Linked DNA regions of Homo sapiens. The protein of the gene in region 5 purifies or fractionates together with the protein of the main gene of each other region. This does not show direct contact. Each region holds a gene or a part of one and is shown on either strand. Other genes may lie near its edges. The genes, in order: LRP12, KCNJ8, POMT2, VEZT, TMED6, ATF6B and ITGA2.

Evidence for each region.
Region 1: the proteins of TMED6 (region 5) and LRP12 purify together in Homo sapiens (affinity purification with mass spectrometry; 2 studies listed by BioGRID and IntAct, with this or other methods). This does not show direct contact.
Region 2: the proteins of TMED6 (region 5) and KCNJ8 purify together in Homo sapiens (affinity purification with mass spectrometry; 2 studies listed by BioGRID and IntAct, with this or other methods). This does not show direct contact.
Region 3: the proteins of TMED6 (region 5) and POMT2 purify together in Homo sapiens (affinity purification with mass spectrometry; 2 studies listed by BioGRID and IntAct, with this or other methods). This does not show direct contact.
Region 4: the proteins of TMED6 (region 5) and VEZT purify together in Homo sapiens (affinity purification with mass spectrometry; 2 studies listed by BioGRID and IntAct, with this or other methods). This does not show direct contact.
Region 6: the proteins of TMED6 (region 5) and ATF6B purify together in Homo sapiens (affinity purification with mass spectrometry; 2 studies listed by BioGRID and IntAct, with this or other methods). This does not show direct contact.
Region 7: the proteins of TMED6 (region 5) and ITGA2 purify together in Homo sapiens (affinity purification with mass spectrometry; 2 studies listed by BioGRID and IntAct, with this or other methods). This does not show direct contact.

What each region holds. Positions count from the first base shown.
Region 1 is NC_000008.11:104,586,459-104,590,436, forward strand, and holds the start of LRP12 (low-density lipoprotein receptor-related protein 12 isoform a precursor), read right to left. Parts: upstream 2,801-3,978; 5' UTR 2,440-2,800; coding exon 2,361-2,439; intron 1-2,360. UniProt on the Homo sapiens protein: Probable receptor, which may be involved in the internalization of lipophilic molecules and/or signal transduction. May act as a tumor suppressor.
Region 2 is NC_000012.12:21,768,207-21,771,706, reverse strand, and holds part of KCNJ8 (ATP-sensitive inward rectifier potassium channel 8), read left to right. Parts: intron 1-3,500. UniProt on the Homo sapiens protein: Inward rectifier potassium channels are characterized by a greater tendency to allow potassium to flow into the cell rather than out of it.
Region 3 is NC_000014.9:77,279,384-77,282,883, reverse strand, and holds part of POMT2 (protein O-mannosyl-transferase 2), read left to right. Parts: intron 1-2,420; coding exon 2,421-2,492; intron 2,493-2,803; coding exon 2,804-2,863; intron 2,864-2,955; coding exon 2,956-3,061; coding exon of another isoform or gene 3,062-3,200; intron 3,201-3,297; coding exon of another isoform or gene 3,298-3,347; intron 3,348-3,500. UniProt on the Homo sapiens protein: Transfers mannosyl residues to the hydroxyl group of serine or threonine residues. Coexpression of both POMT1 and POMT2 is necessary for enzyme activity, expression of either POMT1 or POMT2 alone is insufficient.
Region 4 is NC_000012.12:95,280,307-95,283,806, reverse strand, and holds part of VEZT (vezatin), read right to left. Parts: intron 1,495-3,500; coding exon 1,163-1,494; intron 1-1,162. UniProt on the Homo sapiens protein: Plays a pivotal role in the establishment of adherens junctions and their maintenance in adult life.
Region 5 is NC_000016.10:69,348,987-69,353,241, reverse strand, and holds the start of TMED6 (transmembrane emp24 domain-containing protein 6 precursor), read left to right. Parts: upstream 1-1,455; 5' UTR 1,456-1,488; coding exon 1,489-1,701; intron 1,702-3,590; coding exon 3,591-3,717; intron 3,718-4,255.
Region 6 is NC_000006.12:32,114,764-32,118,246, reverse strand, and holds the end of ATF6B (cyclic AMP-dependent transcription factor ATF-6 beta), read left to right. Parts: intron 1-208; coding exon 209-388; intron 389-552; coding exon 553-660; intron 661-842; coding exon 843-924; intron 925-1,139; coding exon 1,140-1,210; intron 1,211-1,431; coding exon 1,432-1,543; intron 1,544-1,682; coding exon 1,683-1,767; intron 1,768-2,278; coding exon 2,279-2,508; 3' UTR 2,509-2,983; downstream 2,984-3,483.
Region 7 is NC_000005.10:53,058,852-53,062,351, reverse strand, and holds part of ITGA2 (integrin alpha-2 precursor), read right to left. Parts: intron 2,479-3,500; coding exon 2,340-2,478; intron 1,452-2,339; coding exon 1,306-1,451; intron 1-1,305. UniProt on the Homo sapiens protein: Integrin alpha-2/beta-1 is a receptor for laminin, collagen, collagen C-propeptides, fibronectin and E-cadherin. It recognizes the proline-hydroxylated sequence G-F-P-G-E-R in collagen.

The DNA.
Region 1 (3,978 bases), on a different chromosome or scaffold from region 5:
TTCATTAACAGAGCTAATTATTTTTGAAGCCTTTTAAAACACACACACACTTTTTACTGTATAGAGGACAGTTTCATAAATTACAGCTAGTATCTGTTCTAACAGGCTCAAGGCGACAGCTATTTCTCAGGATGCATCCACCACCCATTACAACTACTATATATTCTAAGTTACTCAATTCCCACTATTGTTATAGAACCACATCCACCCCATACTATTGTTACAGCCCTTTTTCACTATTATAAACCCACATATGGTTAGAGACAGAAGAGGACAAAAAACATGCAGCCATAAAGAGGATTTCTCAGTTCCAGGGTGAAGGGTTCCCTTTAATCTCTGCTGATATAGTTTAATGTTCTGCCTGGTTCACTACCTCCTTTTTTTTTTTACACTTTGAAACCTGCTGTGGCTTGAGACATCAACCTTTGGCATAATCACCTGCTGGTTTTATAATCTGCGGCCCACACTGTTGGAAAAAGGAGTTTCAGTCTTTGCTTACTAACAATTTGTGTTCCTCACTGAACACAAATTCCAAAAAGATAAAAGCTTTGATAGGCACCTACCAGAAAGTCACTTTGTGTACAAGTACTAAAGAATGCACCAAAACAAATTGAGGGGTTCACAGCCTCTTATCCCTCGAGGCAAAAGACTTCTAGTTCAAACACTGATGACACAGGTTTTAATGAAAGAAGAGCCCATTTATTTATCTATTCTGATCGGACATCACAGAAATTCAATGCTTATTATAGTAGAGGACAAAGCTGGACAATCCTAATCACCCTAAATTAAAGATACCTCTCAATTTCTTCTCTCTCCTGGGCCATTACACCAAACCTAGAGCAGAACTATACCCACCTTCAGGGCAGAAGAAACAACGTAATAGCTTATTGATCTCTGGTGTAGACCCAAACCCACAAGTCATCAGGCAAGCAGGGATTACAGCCACTTGATGCAGCTAACAATCAAAAGTCGTGTACTGGGTTTTTGGTCCCACACAAGCACACCTCTGGCAATTACCCCTACATAAAAAATGGACCAAACTACTCTCCTCACCAAAACAAACAAAAATACTACTAATCAGGTACGGGAGCAACACATCCTTAATTGTACCAAAAAGAATTTCTTGGCTGTCAGTAAATGCCCAATTACGTTCATTAATTCTTCATTTAGCGTCACTTGCCAGGTTTCAAAAGCCACCATCACATTCAATTCCGTAGATAAATGCCTTCAAAAGAGATAACACTTGCTGACAAATTGGCTGTTGACTAAACCTCACCACCACCACCATTATACTAGTCAAATCAATGTTTGTGGCAAATGAATTAGACTTTTTATAAGTAAAATTTACCAAAGTAATGATATCTTCTAATTCTTTTTCTGGAGAAATCAGAGCAACACTCCAAAAAGGAAAGGTTAAAACTGAGCTCTCTGAAATACCTATTCAGTGTGTTTAACTGATGAACTAAGAACGGTGAAGTCAGAAGTGTAACTTAATTATCTTAAGAGATAGATGTTCTTTGCAATTAATTCCATTCAGCTCTTGCTCAGACCCCAACGCAATATAAAGCTGTCCGCACAGTCTTCAGCCTTCTCTTAACCCGAAAGGAGTTATCTCTAACCCGATCCATCGACTGGAATAAAGTAACAGTGACCACAGCGGCGGACGAGGATGGATGAAATTACAATTGAACTAGGAGTCAGGACAGATGTGTACACCCTAACAGGAGAGACTGAGGTGGGGCTGGAAACTATTTTCTGGCCTTCTCCCGCGTGCTGCTCCCGGGGAACCAACAGGACCCTGCACGCCCGGATTCGGCAGAGCCCTTGCCCCCGAGGTGGAGTGGGGAGAAGTCAGCGGGAAGCCTTTTCAGGGAATCGAGTAGGACAAGGGCTGGCGCGGTGGGAATCTCGCCGGTGAGAGAACTTCCTAACCCCGGGTTGAGGGGGCGGGGGGAAGGACCGTCCCGGCAGCGGCGGGGGCGAGCTCCTCTGCTTTCTCACAGTCAAGCATCTTTGTGTGTGGATTGTGCCAGGCTACGGGTCCTGGAGCAACTGGCCGCGGGGGCCCTCGAACCCAGGTCGGGAAGTCCGCCCGCCACCCCCTCGCTCCGCCGGGGCCCTCCCGGCCGGGCCCCCCAGCCCCTCTCCACCACCCGAGGGTCTGGAGGTGGACGAGTGGAGAAAAGCATCTCCGTGTGGGGACACCCGTTCCGCCACATCCACCCCCTCACCGGTCTTTGTCCCGCCGGTAGCCAGGGTCTCCGCGGGAGTCTCCAGGGGAACCCCCGTCCTGGAGGCCTCGGGGCCCGGGTCGCCTCAGCTTTGTTCGGTCAGCGGGGCGCGGGGACGCGGACACTTACCGTACACCCCAGCGAGGAAAAGCAAGAGCAACGCAGACCTCCACCGCGGAGACTCTTTTGTGCTCCAGCGACAGGCCATAACCACAGCAGATGGAGAGAGAGAGGAGGAGACGGAGGAGGAGGGAGGAGAAGCTGGAGGTAGACGACGCCGACGCCGCCGCCGCCGCCGCCGCCGCCGCCGAGCCACCGGCTGCTCCCTGCGCTCTCCGCGGCTGCGGGAGGGGGAAGGGAGGGGCCGCCGCCGCCCGCGCGCGCTCCCTCCTCCCTCCTCCCTCCGGCTCGCCTGCTCCCACCCCGGGCGGTGCGAGAGCCCCACGCGGGGCGGCCCTCCTGGGGGCAAGGGCAAGGAGCTCGCGCGCCAGCGCGAGACGAGAGGGTGGCGGACGCCGGACTCCGGCCTCGCGCCGCTCGGGCTAGCCGGCGCCGCCACTCGCCAGACTGAGCGCGCGCCCATCCGTGCGATCGGCAATCCCCTGGCCCGCCTGCCTCGGTTCCCTCCCCGCGCTCCGCTGGACTTTCCAAGTTTCGGGCCGATTTCCACGCGACGGGAGCCCAAGGAGCAAGGCAGCGCCAATCGATGACAGAGCGTGCGAACGCCGGCTGCTGGATGCCCAGGGGCTGGAGCGCGGGGTGTGTGGAGGAGCACGGTCGCTGTCCGAGGGCTGGGCTCTGGCCCAGCGGGTGGGGGGAGGGGGGGTGGGATACCAGCTGGGAGGCTGAAGGTGGTTCCGTGTTGGGGGAGGCGTGGATGGTCTGAAGCTGACAACTTGGGAGTTCCTTCCTCTATCCGGTACCCCCAAGTCTCCACTTGCTGTCGGCGCGGAGCTTCGAGTGGGGGTGGGCTCAAGTTAGTGCGGCCAACCTGGCAGCTGGTCGGTCAAGGGGCAGTGTGGACTCCCACGCTCAAGGTGCCCGGAATGAGTCGGGCAAGGCTTGTGCAGAGCCCCTCCAGTCTGGCGTGGAAGCGCCAAGAGGTCATTTGACATCTCACGCTGGGTCGGGTGCAGCTGGGCCAGGATGTTCGGCAGGGCTGGAGCCGACTTTCAGGGTAGATATATTGAAAGGAGGATTCGCCCATCACGCTGCAGTTTCCCTAAAGCTCTTTTCTCACTCCCAGCAAATGGGAGTCCTCCTTTACTTAGATCCCCAGAACACTTTTCTAAGTACGTCTGTAGTGACGCTGGCACATCAGACCTTACCCCCTGTGTTTTTAAAGCGTTTGTCTACAACGTCTTATTTATATTAGATTTTATCGTTGCCCTTTGCAAGCACTCTCCATGCTATTCATTGAAGACCTACACTGCATCATGCTGTCCTATTGACATAGGTTGTCACTTTTTAATCCCAAACATCCTTGTGAGATAAATATTACCCATGTTTTATAGAAAAGAGAGAAATTAAATTACTCATGGCAAGTAAGTTGTTTGAAACAGTTTTTCTCATTCCAAAGTAAAGATTGTTGCCCCTATACCACAGCAAACTCTCTAGCACAATGCTTAGCGCCTAGTAATGTGTCGGAGTTGGTGCCTGCCAGGGGGTTCGTGGTCTCCCTGACTTCAAGAATGAAGCTGCAGACCTTCCCGGTGACTGTTAACAGCTCTTAAAGATGGCACGGACT
Region 2 (3,500 bases), on a different chromosome or scaffold from region 5:
AATGGTAACAGCAAACCTTAAAAATCTTCATTCTCTCCCAATGAGAATGTAAAAGGTGACTAATAATAATTCTAATTCTTTGCATTTTTCCCTTTGTGAATTCAATGTCCAACCATATCACTAAAATTGGAAACAACATTTTTCATTGAATATTCACCAGTATTTCCAAATAATGTTTGACCATTCTTCTCTTAGGGTGACTCATTTTCTCCTCCATGTATTTTCTCCTGCAAGGAGTCTCTTTGACTCCATTTAATATGAGTCAAAAAATAGACCAATATATTTCCTCTTTCTCGATATTATCCAGCCTACCTCTTTCTGTAACAGAACAAAGAAACAGCTAAACACTTTTATCTCTTGAGATTGTTTAGCATAGCAAGTGTCAGTAAAAAGCTGGGTCTTGTACCATATGTAATATTTAGAATTCATAAACAATATACAAAATGTGGCTCATGAATAGTCTCTTAAACCATTAAAACAAACTATTTGGGATATTTATCATTAGACTGCTCTCTGAGGTATGGATACATTATCAGAAATCAGTGTTGTATCCATACCCCTTCTCTGGGGTCCATTTTTATTCTTGCCATGTTTTGGGGCTATACCAGATATCTTTTTGTGGGTAGTTAGTGCAATAGGCAATTACTGTAGTTTTCCATGAATCATTTTAGCAACAAAAGAGAAAGGCAACTTTCGCACTTCACTTAAAAGCTAATCAAAAGAATAATCCATGTATTCTTGCTTATCCCTCATAATTTTCTACCAAAGTGCACTGTACATACCAAGTACTCAAATGTTTAAACATTTTTCTCACCTGCTGTCTGTAGCATTAATAAATAGGTAATACTTTGAGAGATTGCTAATGTGTAGGCTTGTCTTCTATAAAGTTAGAGAAGTTTGAAATTGTGGTTGGGGGCAAAGATAGAACTAATATTGTTTCTATGAAGAAGCCACAGCAGTACTTGTTGTGAAATTAAGTGTTATAAATTGATAGTAACAAATGTGGTGCTTCCCATATGGGAGTAAATCAGAATCCCCTGAGAACTTTTCAAAAGCATCTTACCCAGATCCAACCTCAGCCTACCAAATCAATGTCTATTCACTAAGATAGGGAGTAGATGTGCAATTTGAAAAAGCTTCCCAAGAAAATCCTACAACTTCTTGGTTCCTTCCCTCTGCTTCTTTCACAGGATTAGGCCAAAGTGAGAAAATTCAAGTTAGTATAATATTAATTACAGGTATACCTTAGAGATATTGCAGTTTTGGTTCCAGACCATTGCAATAAAGCAAATATCAAAATAAAGACAGTTACACAAACCTTTTGTTTCCCAGTGCATATAAAACATTTATATTATATTGTAATCTAGTAAGTGTGTAATACCATTATGGCTGAAAAATATACATATCTCAATTCAAAAAATATTTTAATGCTAAAAAATGCTAATGTTCATCTGAGCCTTCTGCAAGATGTGGTCTTTTTGCTGGTGGAGGGGCTAGCCTTGATATTGATGGCTGCTGATTGATCTGGGTAGTGGTTGCTCAAGGTTGGGGTGGCTGTGGCAACTTCTTAAAATATGACAATGAAGAGTTTGCTGCAACAATTGACTTTTCTTTTCACAAAAGATTTATCTGTAATGTGTGATGCTGTTTGATAGCATTTTACCCACAGTAGAACTTCTTTCAAAACTGGAGCTAATCTTCTCAAAACCTGCCACTGCTTTATCAACTAAATTTATGTAATCTTCTGAATTCTTTGTTGTCATTTCAACAGTGTTCACAGCATCTTCACCAAGAGTAGATTCCATCTCAAGAAACCACTTTGGTTGCTTGTCCAGAAGAAGCAACTCCTCATTCATCCAAGTTTTATCATGAGATTGCAGCAATTCAGTCACATCTTCAGAATGCCCTTGTAATTCTAATTCTCTTGCTATTTCTACCACATGTGCAGTGACTCCCTCCACTGAAGTATTGAACCCCTCAAACTCATTCATGAGAATTAGAATGAACTTCTTCCCAACTCCTGTTAATGTTAATATTCTGACCTCCTCCCGTGAATCACAAATGTTCTTAATGGCATCTAGAATGGTGAATCCTTTCCAGATGGTTTTAAATTTACTTTGCCCAGCTCCATCACAGGACTCACTATCTATGTCAGCAATAGCCTTATGAAATGTAAATTTCTTAAGTAATAGGCCTTAAAAGTCGAAATTACTCCCTGACTCATGGCTGTAGAATGGATGTTGTGTTAATAAGCATAAAAACAGCAATCAACTCCTTCTACATCTCCATCAGAGCACTTGAGTGACTAGGAGCATTGTCAATGGGCAATAATATTTTGGAGGAATCTTTTTTTCTGAGCAGTAAGTCTCAGCAGTGGGCTTCAAATATTTAATAAATCATGCTGCAGACAGATATGCTGTCCTCTAGCCTTTATAGTTCTACTTATAGAGCATAGGCAGAGTCAATTTAGCATAATACTTTGGGGCTCTACGATTTTCAGATTGATCAATGACCATTGGCTTCAACTTGATGTTACCAGCTGCATTAGTTCCTAACAAGAGTTAGCCTGAACTTTGATGCTTTGAAGCCAAGCATTGACTTCTATCTAGTTATGAAAGTCCTGGGTAACATCTTCTTCCAATAGAAAGCTGTTTCATTTTCAACACTGAAAATCTGTTGTTTAGTGCAGCCACCTTTACTAATTTTCTTAGCTGGATCTTTTGGATAACTTGCTGCAGCTCCTCCATCAGTACTTGGTGCTTCACCTAGCACTTTTCTGTTTTGAAGGTGGCTTCTTTTCTTAAGCCTCCTGAACCAATCTCTTCTAGCTTTAAACTTTTCTTTTGCAGCTTCCTCACCTCTCATCCTTCATAGAAATGAAGAGAGTTAGGGCCTTGCTCTAATTCAGGCTTTGGCTTAGGGGAATGTTGTGACCTAGTTGGTCTTTTATCCAGACCACTCAAATTTTCTGCATCTCAGCAATGAGGCTATTTTGCTGTCTTATCATTTGTGTCTTCACTGGAGTAGCACTTTGAATTTTTTTCAAAACTTTTTCTTTCCACTGTTCACAACTTGGCTGTTTGGCACAACAGGCCTAAACTTTGGCCTATCGTGGCTTTTGACTTGCCTTCCTCACCAGCTTAATCATTTTTGCTTTTGATTTAAAGTGAGAGACAGCGAATATTTCCTTTACTCGAACACTTAGTGTTCTTTGTAGGGCTATTAACTGACCTAATTTCAATAGTGCTGTGTCTCAGGGAATAGGAAATCCTGATGAAAGGGGAAGAAACAAGGGAACAGCTGGTCAGTGGAGGACTCAGAACACACACATTTATCGATTGTTTGCCATCTTATATGGGCATGGCTCATGGTGCCCCAAACTAGGGGTTCCCAATCCTTGGGCTGCAGACCAGTACTAGTCTGTGGCCTGTTAGAAACCAGGCCACATAGCAGGAGGTGAGCAGTGGGGGAGCAAACATTACCTCCTGAGCTCTGCCTCC
Region 3 (3,500 bases), on a different chromosome or scaffold from region 5:
TCACTCTACCCACAGCATTGCAGGGAGGTGTAGCACTTGTTATTTTTCCCCTGGTAAGCCATTGTCAAGTGGACTTCCCTGGAAGTGATTATGTAAGCAGTACTCAGTACATATAGTTGACTTATTTCACCAGATTAAATTTTAAAAATTCAAATTTTGTCATTTTTGCGCATTGGGAGGTGATAAGTTGACATTAAGCATCTCTGGGTCACTTCCTTTCTGACTCTCTGCTTGTAGCTGTCACTGTGGCCTGATGACATAGCTCTTTTGAACATGTGCCTGTCAGTCAGAATATCATTCTGGGCCTGGGTCAAATTTTAAGACTAAATCTACGAGTTTCATTTTGTCTTTCATTATCTAAGAAGTAGAGTCAGAGAAGAAAAGGGAAGTAATGAGAGCTTTCTTATTCAGCCAACAAAGAGTCAGGGAGGGGAGAGAGATGAAAACAGTGAGTCCAGACTATAGAAACTGCAGGGGCAGGGCTCTTCCGCTGGCTGAGTAGTGGCCCGGGACCTGGAGGAGAAGGCTGCCTTGCCTGGTGCAGTTACAGGAATGAGCCCATCCAGATTTCAGCCATAGAGAACAACTTACAAGTACATATGCCTGTGATGGTTGCAGATTTTTCTTTCCTCTTTTAGTTTAGCAACAGAGCAGGATTTCTCAGAGTTTAATGTAGTGAATAAGATTCCCTTGGCTTGGTACAGTTCTGGCTGGAGTCCTTGGGTTTGGGACCAAACTGTACAATTTGAAGGAATTGGTTTCCCTCAGCAACTGCCGCAGGGGTCCAGAATGATTCATTCCTCATTCCCAGGTCCTTCAAAGGGCCGCAGTGACGCTGGGGCCGTGCAGCTGTCCCCTTTGTGTCTGATGCCCTGGATGCACTTTTGACCTTGGAGGCACAACCTCTCCACCATGTAGAGGCCTGTAAACTATTCCCAGCCCCTTGCTGAACTGGATTCATAAGGCACTGGGTGGCAGTCCACTGAACTTTCTGGGTCTTTCTTAGGCTATACCAGTGGTTCTTAATTGAGGGTGATTTTGCCTCTCGGGACTTTTGGCCATCTGTGGAGAAATTTTTGGCTGGGAAACTGAGGGGTTGAGGGTAGGAGTGCTACGGGCATTCAGTGAGTGGAGGCCAGGAATGCTAAACACTCTGCAATGCACGGGACAGTCCTCACAGCAAAGACTCATCCAGCCCGAAATGTTGGGAGTGCTGAGGTGGAGAAGCTCCGGCCTAAGTCATGGCAGCTGACTCCCCTTCTGGGGAAATGCCTTTTCAGTCTGTCCCAGTGATAAGGCAGAACCCAGTCCTAGTGGTTAATATCCTGGATCCTGACCCTACTCCTTCCTGTTTTAGCAAAGACCTGGTTTGCCCTGTAGAGAAAGGTTAGCAGATGTTCTTGGCTGCTGGATTAGGGAGGCTGAGTCTGGGTCCTTCAAACCAAAGCATGCATTAGGGTTGATTTCTCTCCCAATAGATGAAATGTGTTCTTGGAGGGCAAAATATCTAATTTTTTATGTATAAAGCACAAGTAAGATGTACAGTATAAAGTATTAAAATGTCATGGAGTGTGTTTAGGGAGAAACTTGTCTACAAAGGCTCCTGGTAGAGGGGCAGTAGTGGAAAAAAAAGGTGGAGAAGCACTAAGCTAAAGCAACCTCTTCCAAGTCTAGGCACGCATGAGAGTTTCTGCTTTTCTGTTTGAAATTGGCCCCTGAAGGGAACAAATAAGTAAGCCTTATTATTTATTTATTTATTTATTTATTTATTTATTTATTTATTTATTTTGAGACTGAGTCTTGGTCTTTTTGCCTAGGTTGGAGTGCAATGGCATGATCTCAGCTCACTGCAACCTCCGCCTCTTGGGTTCAAGTGGTTCTCCTGCCTCAGCCTCCCAAGTGGCTGGGATTACAGGCACCCACCGCTACGCTCAGCTAATTTTTTGTATTTTTTAGTAAAGACGGGGTTTTACCATGTTGGCCAGGCTGGTCTTGAACTCCTGACCTCAGGTGATCCACCCGCCTCGGCCTCCCAAAGTGCTGGGGTTACAGGCATGAGCCACTGCACCCGGCTGTAAGCCTCATTTTATATCCCCTCTCTCCCACCATTTTCACACCTTGTCCTTAGCTTGGCAGATGGGTATATATTTTGTGCCCATTGGAACAATTTCCTCTTTCCCTTCTTTTTCCCTAGAAGGTTGGAATGGACCCCTTATGGGAGATGGAGGCTTGTCTGGGAGAAGTAAAGCAAGTGTCGTAGGTAGGCAGACAGCAGCTGCCTGATTCTTCCCTGCAAGGGAAGGGAAGGAGAGAAGGTTCTGCTCGGCGCTTGGCCCTATATCAGAAAAACCTGGGCCCCACATTTCTGTCAGCCCTCTAGATCTCTGTCTTGACTAGCTTTCTTTGCTACCTTCATGCAGGGGAACAGTGGCCTCAAACCCAAGGACAATGAGTTCACGTCCAAACCCTGGCACTGGCCTATCAACTATCAGGTAGGATCCAAGGCTGGGGCTCCTCCCAGGAAATGGAGCCAAGAACAAGAGCAGGGAGACCGGTGGAGGCGGGGGTGGGTGTACTAGGGCGGCAGGGCGAGGGGCCTCCTGGGATGGGTTGGCCAGAGGTGGGAGTATCTGTTTTCTGCCCTAATTCTGACCCTGCTTCCCAGAGAGCTCGTGTAGAATTTGCCAGCCTGAGGTTCGTGTCCAGGCTCCCTGTCTGTGGAAGGTGACCATCTTCCTCCCCCTAATGGGTGTGGCCGAGGATGGGCTGGGCCTGGGTCAGCAGGGTGGTCTCTATTCCACAGGGCCTACGCTTCTCAGGGGTCAATGACACAGATTTCCGAGTCTATCTGCTTGGCAACCCGGTGAGTGCCTAAACATTCCCGGCTCAGGCCCTGGAGCACTTGCCCGTGGAGAGCGGCTGCGTTCTCATCTGCCCATTCCCATTTCTGCACAGGTGGTTTGGTGGCTGAATCTGTTGAGCATCGCCCTCTACCTCCTCTCAGGGAGCATCATTGCTGTAGCCATGCAGAGAGGGGCACGGCTGCCAGCGGAGGTTGCAGGTCAGGTCCTCTGGGCTCTCCCTCCCCTGACCTGGCGGCAGCAGGGCACCTGCACCCCTGGGGAGGGCCGGCTGCCTGCTGATGGGCCATCCTTTGCGTTTACCACCCCACACCTTCCCTTATCCTTTGCTTTTGAAAGGTAACAACCCCCAAGTACCCAGTGCTGTGTTAAACACTTTACTTCCTCCCAACAACACTAGAGCGTTGGCTATTATGACCCCCATTTTATGGATTAGGAAACCAAGGAACCATGAGATTAAGAAACTTGCCCCAGGACATACAGCTAGTAAGTGATAGAGCTGAGGCTCAAACCCGTGCAATCTGACTCCACAGCCCTCACTTTTAGCCCCATGCTGTGTACAGAGCTGCCCATCTTTTCTGCCACCTCCTTGTTCCATGGCCCTGTCCTCTCATGGGCTAGAGAGGAGCCTCCAGGGTT
Region 4 (3,500 bases), on a different chromosome or scaffold from region 5:
AGCAGATATAGACCACTGGAATACCCTGAGTTCATAGTGTCTTCATTTTTCCTATGCCATAATCTTTATATCAGCCTTATATCAAGCCTTATATCAAGCCCAACTCAGGCCTTGAACTGATGGGTAAAAACTTAGCTTCTAAAAATATCTTTCTGACTTTAAGTTCCTATCCTTGTATCTCTTATCCTCCCTAATTCCAGTGATTTTGATTTGCTGATTTAGCCTTTTGATTTTGCTGATGTATCAAGTCCTTTTGACCCATTCTTATTTACATAATCAAATACTGCCTTCCCCATTCCACTTCTTGCCTTGTATCCCAGGGTCAAGTACATCAACTACAATCTTGTCAGCTCTTTAAATTCCTAGGACCTTCCTGATTACCAACACAATTTGAACCCAACCATTCATTTGATCCAGTCCTACACGATGAGTATTTAACTGTTAGAGAAAAATTTCACTGGAAATGACTGTATTCAATTAAATGCCTTGATTCAATTTTTAAACTTGAAAACTTCCATGTACAAATATGTGAAAATAGTATTTTCAGCTGATAAAGGTATACCAAAGTGGGACATAAAAATTTAGGAATTAAGGTAGTATACCAACAATTTCATGCAAGGTAGGAAATGAACAAATATAAACTCTAGACTCTACATTTTGCTCTTCAACTGGGACCACAAAGCTTGTCCTGTGATACAAAAAAATTTTCAGATCTGCTGTAATTTATTTAGAAAAATAGCAATATGTTACTCTTCCACTATATATAACATATATACTGTTCCAGTACTGGTAGATATTTCTATTGGACTGCAGGTTCCAGTTTAAGAGCACTACCTTAAGACAGTTAAAAGAAACTCATTCTTTATAACCATCTCCATTTCAGCTCTCAAAGAGAATGAACAACACCTGCTTTTAGCCTACTTTTCCAAGTTTTCTGTTGAACTAAGGAAAAGTAAAAACTATAAATAATAACTCCCTCAAGTTATAGTACTTATAAATTATTTTTTTTTTTTGCTATATTTATAGCTATAAATCACCCTTCATGCTCATGCCTCAGTTTTGTTTCTTTTTTCTAGGTAGGACACAAGCCAACAACCACAATGGTACACGAATGAAGCTTGCTAATTACCGAGACCTTTCTTGGTATAATTTCTAAACTTACTCATTCAGTAATGCTTTCAGATGGAGCTGCAAGCTACGCACTGCTGTGTGAACATTATTCAGTTCTCTTGACTTCTGTTGAGTTTTGGATAAACACTGCGGTACTGACTGGTGCTGAGTTTCAAAGTACCGATAGAACTCATAGCTGCGCTTAAGCTCTTCCAAACAGGCAGAATGAGCATGAGGTAGACCTTGAGTCACATCAGATAAGATACGATGAGGCAGAAGTGCTGGAGTAAGTAAGGGCCCAGGAGGTGAATTGGCTGTAGAAAGTAATAGGGCTAACCGTCTGAAGAACTCTGAACTCTGTGCCACCCAGAGTTGGAACAAAACCTTAAAGAAAAAAGAAAAAAGAACTAGATCAATAAAAATATTGGTCAGTGTTCAAAACAAACTATAAATTTGTTTATCTTAACTTCTGGTTTAAATTTTGCACTTTATCCTAAATAATAAATATAGCCGAACTTAAACTACCTTAAGATTAGCCAAGAATATGATTTCAAATTATGTGTGTGGGAACCTCTGATTCCAATACAGCAGGTAACATCAATATATAATTTACTACAGTTCTGCCCTAGATGGGAAGTGTTGATGGAATGAGATAATTTAGTAAAAGTGAATCTTCACTCATTATTTAAAAAAAATTTTCACATAGGAGAAAAGAAGATAGTAGGACTAGTGGATATATATACATATATATATATATTTTTTTCTCTCCAAAGAAATGAGTCACATGGATCAAAAGCTTGGGTTTCAAAATAAGACTATTACCTTGCCCTAGGAATTAGCTAAGAAATTAACATAAAAATCAGTCCAGGGCTAGGCGCAGTGGCTCACTTTGGGAGGTGAAGGCGGATGGATCACTTGAGGTCAGGAGTTTGAGACCAGCCTGGCCAACATGGTGAAACCTCGTCTCTACTAAAAATACAAAATTTAGCCAGACATGGTGGTATGTGCTTGTAGTCTCAGCTACTTCGGAGGCCGAGGCAGGAAAATCATTTGAACTTGGGAGGCAGACGTTACAGTGAGCTGAGATGGCGCCACTGCACTCCAGCCTGGGTGACACAGCAAGACTCCATCCAAAAAAAAAAAAAATCAATACTCCAGGAATGTCTGACATGAGAAATTGCAAAACCCATTATTTTAATTAATTAATTAATTAATTTTTGTGATAGAGTCTTGCTCTGTTGCCCAGGCTAGAGTGCAATGGCACTATCATAGCTTACTGCAACCTCAAACTCCTGGGCTCAAGTGATCCTCCTACTTCAGCCTCCTGAGTAGCGGGAAACACAGGCATGTACCACCATACTCAGCTAATATTTAAGTTTTAGAGATGGGGTCTCAGTATGTTGCCAGGATAAATCCCATTCTTCTTCTTTTTTTTAAAATGCAGTCTGAATATGTTCATAGGCCCGTTCCTGAGATACATCCTGAATCCTGGCAGCAAAATATTTCTCCAGATATAGTCCTATTCAAGATGAGGACAATATCTCCGAAACAAATGCATGAGGAAACAATGTAGTATGAAACAAGAGGTAGCAGGGAATAAAAAGAGGATGAAACCACTTTGGGTAATTTAGATTCCAATTATTCACAACCATGAAAATAGACAGTATTTAGATGGTTTTAGTAAATGAATTTTAAAATTATGCCAATAATGAATTAAGATTATTTCATGTATATCTATTTTACCATTAACTTATTTTTTTTTTAAAGTGACCAAGGCCTAATTTCCTAGTTGCTACAGATGTGATATCTAGGGATTCTTGACTTGCAAGTTTACTTGCAAGCCTTCTTATTCAACTGTTAAATTTTATGATTACAATGATTTTTATTCTTTTGTTCGTTCATTCAGAAATGATTTCTTGAGCACCCATGATGTGCCAGGCACTGTTCTAGGTGCAGATAAACAGCAGTGAGCAAAAATGAAGAGTCCCCACTCTGATGGAGCTTATATTCAAGTAGAGGGGCACAGATAATAATTTACAAGTAAAAGATACTATTTCCCTTTTGCAGTAATGATTGTCGAGGAAGAAAAAGAAAGATAGTGTTTCTTGGTTGATGGGAAAAACACAGCAAAGAAGAGGAATAGTGTGTGTGTGTGTGTGTGTGTGTGTGTGTACACATATGAAAGGGGGGGAATAGTGTGTGTGTGTGTGTGTGTGTATGTGTGTGTACACATATGAAAGGGGGGGAGAGAGACAGAAAGCGCGAAGGAGAGAGGAGAAGGGGCTGGCTGGGGAGGTCTCTAAAAGTGTCACCTGAAGGAAGTGAGCCATGAGATAATCATCAAGGAAGAGAGTTCTAGGGAGCAGGAAGTCAAATGCAAAGTACTGTTG
Region 5 (4,255 bases):
CACTCCTGTGGGTCCAGCTACTTGGGAGGCTGAGGTGGGAGGATCGTTTGAGCCCAAGGGGGTGAGGCTGCAGTGAGCTATGTTTGTGCCACTGCACTCCAGCCTGGAAGACAGAGTGATACCATCTCAAGGAAGCAAAAAAAAAAAAAAAAAAAAAAGATTAGGACTGAAAAATGGTTAGGCAGTGTCAGAACTCAGAGACTGACAGCTTGAGAATGAGAAACACTGTCCTGCCTGGTGGTTAAGAGCATGAGCCCCCACCGGGGACCCAGCTCTGCCAGGTGTGCTTGTGGGAGCGTGAGCCACCACTGGAATCTCTGAATGTCTGTGTCCTCATCTCTAATGCCAGAGCTCACAATACCTCCCTTGCAGGGCTATTGTGAGAATAAAATAAGATGCAGGTAAATCTTAGCTCAGTGCCTGCCATGAAGGAGGTGGGTGTTGAAATCATGAATAAAAGAATAAAGATTAAGGATGTGAATAATATAATTGTCTTTAAGTGGGTTCTGGATAGTTTTTTCCCCCATGGGTGCTGAAGAAGTCCTGAATAAAAGAAAGATCAAGGCTGGGCGTGGTGGCTCATGCCTGTAATCCCAGCATTCTGGGAGGCCGAGGCGGGTGGATTACTTGAGGTCAGGAGTTCGAGACCAGCCTGGCCAACATAGTAAAACCCTGTCTCTACTAAAAATTCAAAAATTAGCCGGGCATGGTGGCAGGCACCTGTAATTCCAGCTACTCAGGAGGCTGAGGCAGGAGAATCGCTTGAACCGGGGAGGTGGAGGTTGCAGCGAGCAGAGATCGTGCCACTGCACTCCAGCCTGGGTGACAAAGCTACGCTCCATCTCAGAAAAAAAAAAAAAAAAAAAAAAAAAGATTGAGGCTTTGGATAATATAATTGTCTTTCAGTGGGTTTGGATAGCTTTAGGTGACCGTTAGGTGAAAGGCATCAGGACGAGGACTGTCAGTGGAGGGGTCTAAGCACCATCCTCTGGCACTGTATTCATCCATTTACATCTTTGCACACACATGCTGTGATTTGCTCTGAGCTGCAGCATTGGGGAGAGAGAAGTGTTGCCCCATGTGTTTATAGGAGCAATTTGATGTAAGAGAACAATCCCCCCAGCCAACTTTTTGTCAGTGTATTCAGAAGTTGTAAACTTACCCACTATTATATCCCCAAGAAGCAGGAACTAAAAAATGACAGCCCTAATGAAGGGTGGAAAGACCTCTTCTGAGGTGGTAGATTCTATGTAGCACCCATGAAGTAGGTTTGGTAAGCCACTGAGTTTTTGAGGTGAAAGCAAAATTTCCTCCTGCGAGCCAAACATGGGAGTATCATGGCAGTTCTATGATGAATATCTATGTGTGGCCCTGAAATGGGCCGTAATGTGACTTGTGGAGTTAATCATTAGCCCAGCGGTTGTCTGAACGACTTGATTTCCCTGGGCTGCGAGCAGTTCACCTGCAGAGGAGGCTCCAGAAAGCGGCATGTCCCCTTTGCTCTTTGGGGCTGGGCTGGTCGTTCTGAATCTAGTGACGTCTGCCAGGAGCCAGAAGACAGAACCTCTAAGTGGCTCTGGGGACCAGCCACTCTTCCGTGGAGCTGATCGATATGACTTTGCCATCATGATACCTCCAGGAGGCACGGAATGCTTTTGGCAATTTGCCCACCAGACTGGATACTTCTATTTCAGTTACGAGGTATGTGGGTGACTGGCCATACTGGGGGGCTTTTTTTTTTCTCCTTTACTCATAAAGTGGGTCAGGTTTTAGGCCAAAACAAGGTCTGGTTGTCTTTATTATGCTGTGATTCCCCACCTGTTAATGAAATGGACCTGCAGTTAGAGGGAAACTCCAGCTGGGTGAATAATCACCAACAGGAGCTAAAACATATGGTTTGGCTTCTTACATCAGGGGCCATGCTCAAAGCCATGGGGCAGACGGGGTGCCTCTCCCTGAAGAGGTAATCATTACATGTACTCGGATTTGGGGATGAGAGGGGAGAGAATACATTTTTAATATATTAAAACAAAATTGGATAATGGTGCTTTGGAGACTGATCCAGAGATTTCAAAGAAGGCTGCTTCAGCTTATGGGGTGGGGGAGTAAAGGTTCTGCTGCCTTTAGGAGCAATTCTGGCAAGTCAGAGATTCACTAGGTCAAGTTTTTTGTATTCGGCCAGTTAATCCTATTTTTTTTTTTTAGGACGGTAAGTGTTTTCAAGTTACTTATTCAAAGGTCAAGTACTTTTACCCATACTATGGTCTTATATCATGCTGTCCAAGGATGGTGAACTCAGTATGAAAGTTAGAGGCTGTTCATTTCCTTTGTTCTTTATCTTAGAAATCGGTTAACTTTCTAATTTTTGTTTACATAGTAATAGACTTTGTTGATCTTACTCCACTGTAACAACATTTATTTTAAATAAACTTATCAGAGACTTTTCTTACCTCTGAATTTCTATTAGAACAGCAGCCACTACTAAGCTCACTGTGGCCTGGCCTAATCAAGATCTAGCTTGGGAGCAAGTGTCCATGGAGTGCTTGTTGTAGGTGTGCACTGCCAAGCAGCAAATGCCCAAATCTGGGACATCATTGGGGAGCTCAACCACCAAGCAAGTTCATTCAAGAACTCTACAGCCAGGCCGGGTGCGGTGGCTCACATCTGTCATCCCAGCACTTTGGGAGGCTGAGGCAGGCGGATCACCTGAGGTCAGGAGTTCGAGACCACCTTGGCCAATATGGTGAAAACGCATCTCTACTAAAAATACAAAAATTAGCCGGGCTTGGTGGCATGTGCCTGTAATCCCAGCTACTTGGGTGGCTGAGGCAGGAGAATCGCTTGAACCTGGGAGGTGGAGGTTGCAGTGAGCCAAGATCACTGCACTCCAGCCTGGGTGACAGAGCAAGACTCCGTCTCAAAAAAAATAAAAAATTCTACAGCCAGAATCGTACTTTTTTTTTTTTTTTTTTGACAGAGTGTTGCTCTGTCGCTCAGGCTGGAGTGCAGTGGCATGATCTCGAGTCACTGCAATCCCTGCCTCCCGGGTTCAAGCAATTCTCCTGCCTCAGCCTCCAAAGTAGCTGGGATTATAGGCGCACGCCACCATGCCAGGCTAATTTTTGTATTTTTTAAGTAGAGACAGGGTTTCACCATGTTAGCCAGGCTGGTCTCGAACTCCTGACCTTGTAATCTGCCCACCTCGGCCTCCCAAAGTGCTGGGATTACAGGCGTGAGCCACCGCGCCCGGCCCAGAATCATACATTTTAGTGGATCCACACTAGCTGTGTGTTCCGAGCAAGGCATGTCTTCTTCACACGGGTGCTGTTGGCATTCTGGGCAGTTCTTTGTCCTGCTGTACTGTTTCTTACATTGCAGACGTTCAGCAATGCTGTGCTGCCTCCCCTTAACACCATCACTGTGATACCTCAGAATCCTCCAATCAACTCCAAACCCCAGCAGGGGGTTGGGCAGTCCCACCCCAGACAGAGACCGCTGTGCTGATGACCGTGGGACGTCAATCTTACCACTCAGCTGGCTTCCTCGTGATGTAGCAGGGGTTCTGCTACCTATTTAATGTGTCTTGGCAGGTTCAGCGGACAGTGGGGATGTCACATGACCGGCATGTTGCTGCCACGGCACATAACCCACAGGGATTTCTCATAGACACCTCCCAGGGTGTTCGGGGCCAGATTAACTTCTCTACCCAAGAGACAGGTCTGTTTTCATTACCATGGCTATTATAATAATCATAGGGTCCTATGAAATTACAGAAATAATGAGGAAGTATACAGAGATGTTTTAACAGTAGGAAAAAAATTCAGCCTTTAACACCAAAAACCAGTGTTCCTGGAGGCTGCTGACCTCCAAGGATGCCAAGTGGCAGTCTACTGACGATTTGGGGGCAACACTCCAGGTGAGCATTCTAAGTCTAGGGTTCAGCCGCTCAATTTTATCTCATCATCTCCAGTTAATCAGATTCTGGGAAAGTGACCAAAAAACAGAGACCCATTTATAATACAGAATTCCAATTAACAAATGGATTACAGGGAAGCATGTCTTTCCAGTCATCAGAATATTTGAGTCAGTTACTAAAAGCAGATTCAGAACAAAAGAAAATGCATGATATCCATGTGAGATATCCACACTCCACAGCAAAGCACTCCTCCAGCCAGGTCAAGCCTGTCCCACTTTGGAGAGCAGCAGTGTCTTAACTGCCCTCTTTAATAGCCAGCTGCACTAAAAAAGACATTTT
Region 6 (3,483 bases), on a different chromosome or scaffold from region 5:
TATTAAGTGCTTACTGAGTTCTAGGCTCTAGGTGATGCACTGTCTTTTTTGTATGTAGGGACCATCCTTATTCCCATCTTACAGAGGCAGACTCAGGCTTGTATAACAGATTGCAACTCAAGCAGTCCATCTGCAGAGTCTTTATTCTTACCTAGATACTTGATACAGCTGAAATTCTTCATTGTGCTCAGTCCTTCTTTATCCACAGCATCAGTGAGCCTCCTTCAGCTCCCATCTCTCCTCGGATGAACAAGGGGGAGCCTCAACCCCGGAGACACTTGCTGGGGTTCTCAGAGCAAGAGCCAGTTCAGGGAGTTGAACCTCTCCAGGGGTCCTCCCAGGGCCCTAAGGAGCCCCAGCCCAGCCCCACAGACCAGCCCAGTTTCAGGTGAGGAGAGAGAGAGAGGGCCCCCTCTCGTTTGAGGGTATGAGTTGGTCTTCTCCCCGCTTTCAGTGAGGGGGACCCAAAGCTTTCTCTTGCCGTCATCGCCTTCTTTGTTGTGGGAGTGCTGGGCAGTCTCCAAGTGTTGTCTCCTTCCTGCTTCACTCCAGCAACCTGACAGCCTTCCCTGGGGGCGCCAAGGAGCTACTACTAAGAGACCTAGACCAGCTCTTCCTCTCCTCTGATTGCCGGCACTTCAACCGCACTGAGTCCCTGAGGTGTGGGATTCATTGCTGGGGCATCCAGCTCCCCCGGCCTCCCAAGGCCTTCTGCAGTCAGCCTGGCTGGCCTGTGTACTAAAGCGCCAGTGCTCCCTGCCCTCTCCTCACTCCTGTGGGTGGGCAAGGAGGGTGGGAATCTTGGCCTGGCATGGAGGTCCTGAGCTCCTCCATTTCCCCAGGCTTGCTGACGAGTTGAGTGGCTGGGTCCAGCGCCACCAGAGAGGCCGGAGGAAGATCCCTCAGAGGGCCCAGGAGAGACAGGTAGGGCGGGTGGCTGGTTCAAGGAAGGCCACTTGAAGACAAGGGCTAAAGGCCTTGTCTGGGGATTTCTAGTGGGCATCTCGCTGTGGAAGTTTGAGGGATCGTTTGAAGGAAGTGGAGGGTTGAGTGGGAGGTGGCATCAGCTTCCAGGGGCTGTTTGTCTCTTTCCCTTTTCCCTTCACCCTCTCCAAGTCCTTAGATACTTCTCCTTCCAGAAGTCTCAGCCACGGAAGAAGTCACCTCCAGTTAAGGCAGTCCCCATCCAACCCCCTGGACCCCCAGAAAGGTGAGTGTGGGGTGGGGTGCTTACTTATTAAGTGAAATTCCACTTTCAAGAGCTGTACCCCCAGTAGCTGTCCTGTGCCTGTCATTACTGTCACCAGTGGGATTATACCTCCCTCCTCCACTGGGGGTCTCCTGTCTTTTTCTCTCATCCTACCCGCTTCCCTGGTAGAAACTGAGCATTGGGCTTAGTTCCCCTCAAATCCTGTTTCCCCACCTGCCTAGGGATTCTGTGGGCCAGCTGCAACTATATCGCCACCCAGACCGTTCGCAGCCAGCATTCTTGGATGCAATTGACCGACGGGAAGACACATTTTATGTTGTCTCTTTCCGAAGGGTGAGTTTCTCCTGCCCTTCCATCTCTGTCACCCCAGGTTCCCAGCAGTCTGTCTTCAGTGGGGGGATGTAGAGTAGGGCTGGGGAGCTTGTTGGCATCTTTGCCTCCACCCTTCTGGCCTGGCCCATCTGTTCCCCAGGACCACCTGCTGCTCCCAGCCATCAGCCACAACAAGACCTCCCGGCCCAAGATGTCCCTGGTGATGCCTGCCATGGCCCCCAATGGTAACTCTTTCCCTGCTGGGTATGGGGGCAGTTCCAACAGGGAGATCCAGCCTGGGAGCTGAGGGGGAAGGGGGAGAGGAGCAGGGCATCCAGAGAGCTGCTGGACCCACAGGTGAGAAGCAGCAGGAAGTAGGTGGAGGGAAGAGCACCATGCAGGAGACTTGGGAGGGAGACAAGGGTGAGGGTCCTTCCCTGGTGAAGGTGCTTGGGTAGATGACTGGGCAGAGGCGGGGGGCCGGGAACCTGCTAGACTCTCACTTACTTTTTTCTCTTGATGTCCTCTCCTGTGTGACCCCACACTCAATGCCCTTTTCTTTTCCTACCCTCTCCTTGCCCCTGCACCAAACTCTGTCCCTGCCATCCTGTTTAACTCCCGCTATGGATCTGCCTCCTCACTATTGCCCTTTCTTTTTCTCTCTGCTCACCTCTACTTTTCTGACCTCCTCCCCTCCTCCCTGCAATCCCTGTTTGCCTCCCCATCTCCTCTTCCTTAACTCTCCCCTTCTCACAGAGACCCTGTCAGGCCGTGGGGCCCCGGGGGACTATGAGGAGATGATGCAGATCGAGTGTGAGGTCATGGACACCAGGGTGATTCACATCAAGACCTCCACAGTGCCCCCCTCGCTCCGAAAACAGCCATCCCCAACCCCAGGCAATGCCACAGGTGGCCCCTTGCCAGTCTCTGCAGCCAGCCAGGCCCACCAGGCCTCCCACCAGCCCCTCTACCTCAATCATCCCTGACCTCTGCCATTCACACTGACTTAGAACGGGGGGAGGGGGTACCAGGTGGCCAGGTGGGACTGTTTCAAATTTCCCTGATCCCCAGGCTTGGGGCAATTGGTAAAGGAAAGAGCAGGTGTGGGGGTTAAGCACTTATTTGAGGTGGGGGTGTTCACCTCTCTTCTCATCCCTTTTCAGAATATAGGGCTCCTCTCATTCCTGTGAACCCCCAGTCCTGGCTTCTTTGTTTGAGGGGATTGTGTGAGGTTCAGTTGTGGGGTGGGTGGTGAGCTGCTGCATATTTTTTATTTTGTTTCTCTAGTGTTATGGCAGTGGAGGTGGGAATTTAGTCCCCAGGTGGGACAAGGGAAGTTTTTTCATTTTGGAGCTAGTTACTGGGAGTAAGGGAGGGTGGGGTGGGGGGGAGTTCAGGTTTATGTGTGTGCATTTCTTTTTTATTATTATTAAATAAACAACTTGGAGGGAGTTGAAGGAATGGTGGCTGCCTTCCTGGCTCGTGATGGGGAGTTTGGGGGAAAGTGGCTTTTCCAGAGCCAGCATCAAAGAATCAAGCACTGAAGACATAGCTGGCTCTGAGGTGGGGTGGGTGCGGGATCACAGACCGCATGTCATCCCCTTGCCCCCACCCCTGCAACTCTGGGGTATATCTGTGTCTAGCAACGATGTCTCATGGCGTGACAGACTAGAGGATACGCATCCCTGGAATGTGAGTCAACAGGAAAGATGGGGCCCCACGCCCTTCAGGGTGAGCAGCCTCTGGGTCTCCTGCTCTCGAGCAGGTTCTCCCCCTCTTCTTGCTGTCCAGGATGAGCAGCTCAAACAAACAACAAGAGCTGGGGCCAGAGGCTCAGAGCCCAGGAAGTGGGGGTCTCGGTGAAGAAGGGGTGATATTTGGAAGGGAAGGGGGATGTGGCAGGATATCCTCTAAGCCCTAAACTGGAGGGGACTGAGACTTGAGAGTCCAGATGAAAGACA
Region 7 (3,500 bases), on a different chromosome or scaffold from region 5:
AAGCTTCTATAGTAAAATAAATTGTAATAGAGGCAAGTCCCAAAGGCTGAGTGATCAGAGAGCAGGAGAGTCAGGAAGGCTTAGAAAGTTAAAATATCATTCAAATTGCAAAGTAAGAAGGACATGGAGTTTTCTAGGCAGAGGGAAGTGGGAAAGCACATATGATGATGTAAGTGTACATGGCATGATATGAGACAGGTAAGTAGTTGCTGGATAGATTGGGACAGGAGGACAAGGTGGAGATAAATTAAAATAAGAAAAGCTGAGACTTTGAACCTTCATCCCATTCAACAACGTTCAATGCATGCCTATGTGAACACTTTTTGAGGATTTAGAAATGACTAAGAAATGATTCCTTCCATAACACTGTCACTGTTATTTTCTAAATTAAAGAAGAACTTCTTTAAAATATTAAAAAAGAGAGAAAAGTATGTGACCATAGCTAATTTGTGGTCACGGAAGTCAAGAACTCGGGTCTTCTTACTCCTAGAAAATCCATAGGAACAGCAGGATCACACTTAATCTCAGAGAAGAGAAATCTTTGTAAGTTTCTCCAGCTTAAAGAAGGAAACCACTTTTTGTTGGTTGTCAGGGATTAGTGATGCTCATTTTAAATGTGTGTCAAGCCCCTGGGTCAAAACTGTTTAGTAAGGAAACAGGAAGCAATCAGCTGGCCTTTGCTCTAGCAACAGATCTTTGCTGTAGTGGGCCATATCTGGGATTCATCATAGGGTCTAACTACCAAACTGTCACCCATCAGCTGAAAGTGGCAGAGAAGATAATTGTTTTACTTTTAGAATCTTCAAAACCAACAGGACATTCTGACAGGTTCAGATGTAAAAGTTCAGTCCTTATAATGTTGTGCTGCTCCCTTCTTCTCATTATTTCCTCTCCAAATCCTTGTTCCTAGTGTGTGCTTACCTACAAAGCAGTGGTTACATGCCTGCCATCACAACTAAATAATATCCATGCATTATTAATCCAGGGAGTCAAAAACATGAAGGGGATGTAATCATTCAGGACAGCCTCTGAGTCCAGAAAGGACTGAGTTTTAATGACAGCTCAATCCATGGACGCTGTGTGACCTTAGAAAGCTAGCTAAATTCCCAGTAAGTTGTCAAAAGGGAGGGCTGTCTTCTTGGTATTGTTGTGATGATTTAAGGAATACACTAAGTAAACTCAGATTACAGAGCCAATCACAGAGTAGGCACTCAGGCCATGTTGTTTTCCATTTCTGTTCACCTGACTCCCCACCTGCCCAGTTGCCCCTAAAATTAATTTCACCTGCTAAACAGTGAGATTTACCTGGTCACCTCGGTGAGCCTGAATAACCGTGATATTGCCATTCTCATTCACACTATATAGCACTATCTGGCCGGTATAATTTGCCCGAGGAGCACCAGCAACAAAGTGAGTGCTTTCTCCAGTAGAAATTGCAGCCACAGAGTAACCTAAAAGGGAAGGAGCAACAGAGTGATTAACATTGACTATCTGAGCAAAATAAAGTTAAAAGAAGTGAGTAAAGGTGACCAGAGATCCTTTTGTGTTAGATGTGATGCAAAGTTTCTAGTGCTCCTGAATACATCACTGAGGACATGTCTTCCTTTTTCTAAGATGAATTGCTCCTGTCCTTTGACCTGCAGCACTTCCCTTTGCAGGTGGGACTTCTACCTATAAAACTGCCTCTAGATTCCACGCTGTTCTCATCAGCCACCTGTGAACCTGGCATTCAAAAAATATTTCTTGAACGAATGAATAAATGTATTTAAAAGGTAGTGTTGCACAGTAGAAAGAACACAGGTCTTGGAAACAGGCTGAGGTTCAGATTCTGGATTTGCCGCTTACTAGGTTGTTGAACGTTAGACAAGTTGTTAATCTTGCTATCTCTCAAAGGCAAAACATCCCTGAAAGACTTGTTGGAAAGATTTAAATGTTTATGTAGATAGACTAGCAGCTCAGGAACTGTCCCATAGTAAGTCTGCAAAATCAGTGGCTGCTTATTATAAGAACAAGAAGACTAAGAGCTCTAAAATACTATAAGACTATCACTTACTGTATTGACTTTTGGGAACTATTTCCATTTTGGAGGAACACAATCATGTTCCAGGAATTACAACCACTTGACCAGCCAGAAGAAACTAGTGAGTATAATATAGTATTCCAATAAGTAGTTATGCCTTAAGGCCCGATTGGCAAAGAGACAACATATGTATGTGTAATAAATATGATAATTAGATGACAGTTCAAGGATTTTGCTGAACTCACCCTGAGATTCAACAAAGAGCTGGTTTAAAGCAAGGGAACTTAAGTTTGCTGAGCCAATTATTACCATGCCTTACCTAAATATGAACTGTGATTTCTGTCCTGCAGAATTTGGTCAAAGGCTTGTTTAGGAAAGATCAAATGGCCATGAGATGTCTTCTGGACAATGGTCCCACTCCAGCCAAAAGCTCCCACTGCACCCAGCATCAGAATATCCTAAAATAATTGAAAAATGAAGATCATTGAAACAAATCACCTTTAAAACATAAGAATGCAGGGTAGGCAAAACATTGAAATAAGTTGTTTAGATTTATTAAAAATGATGAAATATATATGAACATATATTGACATATTGTAGAATTGTCTTAATATATTTGTGCTAGAGAACAAGCCTTCCCATTGGCTGTGTTATTTTGGACTTTATTTAGTATGATATGTTATACAGACAAACCTTTGTAATAACCTGTAGTACAGGACAGGTACAGAGCCATCTTCAAATTTCCCTTTCAAAGGCATATATTTGCCAATGGTAAACCCTTATGAACTTTACAAAGGAGTCAGAAGTGAGTCTCTCACTCCACATATTTATAAGGAAAGCTCACAGCCGGATATGAGACATGCTTGAGAAACAGAAGTACTGACACGGGAGAGACGGAGATACTTCTGCTATCCCAGACACGGCTCGGGAGGCCCTCTTCTGACCTGTTCTACTTTCAGCTTTCTTCCTCTCTCTTCCTGACCCCTTCTCAAATGTTCCAGTATATTCCTATATTCCATCTATTTGATAATAGCACAGCTACAAGAGGCAACTTTAGCTGTGACATTCAATCTATTGGAAGGAAAATAACCATTTGTCAGCCCTGTGGGGAGGGCAAAGGAAGATGCCTACTCTGGATTGACTTGAAACCCAATCTAAACACTCAATGCTATAAATCATCAAACGAGGCAGATTTGGTGAGGATGAGATACACTATTTTTAATTTTTTGTTCTTCTATCTTAGAGCGTACCAAAGATAAGATGTTGGACTAAAAAATACAAGCCATGAAAAATAGCAAGTAAGGAAAAGATGTGTTCTACTTTGAGGATAAGAGACCATGAAGTTATGTGAATGACTGTAGTAAATTGAGGGACTCTGGATTTGGGGTGCATGAAAGGACTTCAGCGTATGTACAAAAACCTCATGGGATTGTGTGCAAAATTCTCCGTGCATAGATTCATTTACATTTTTTCTGAGGGA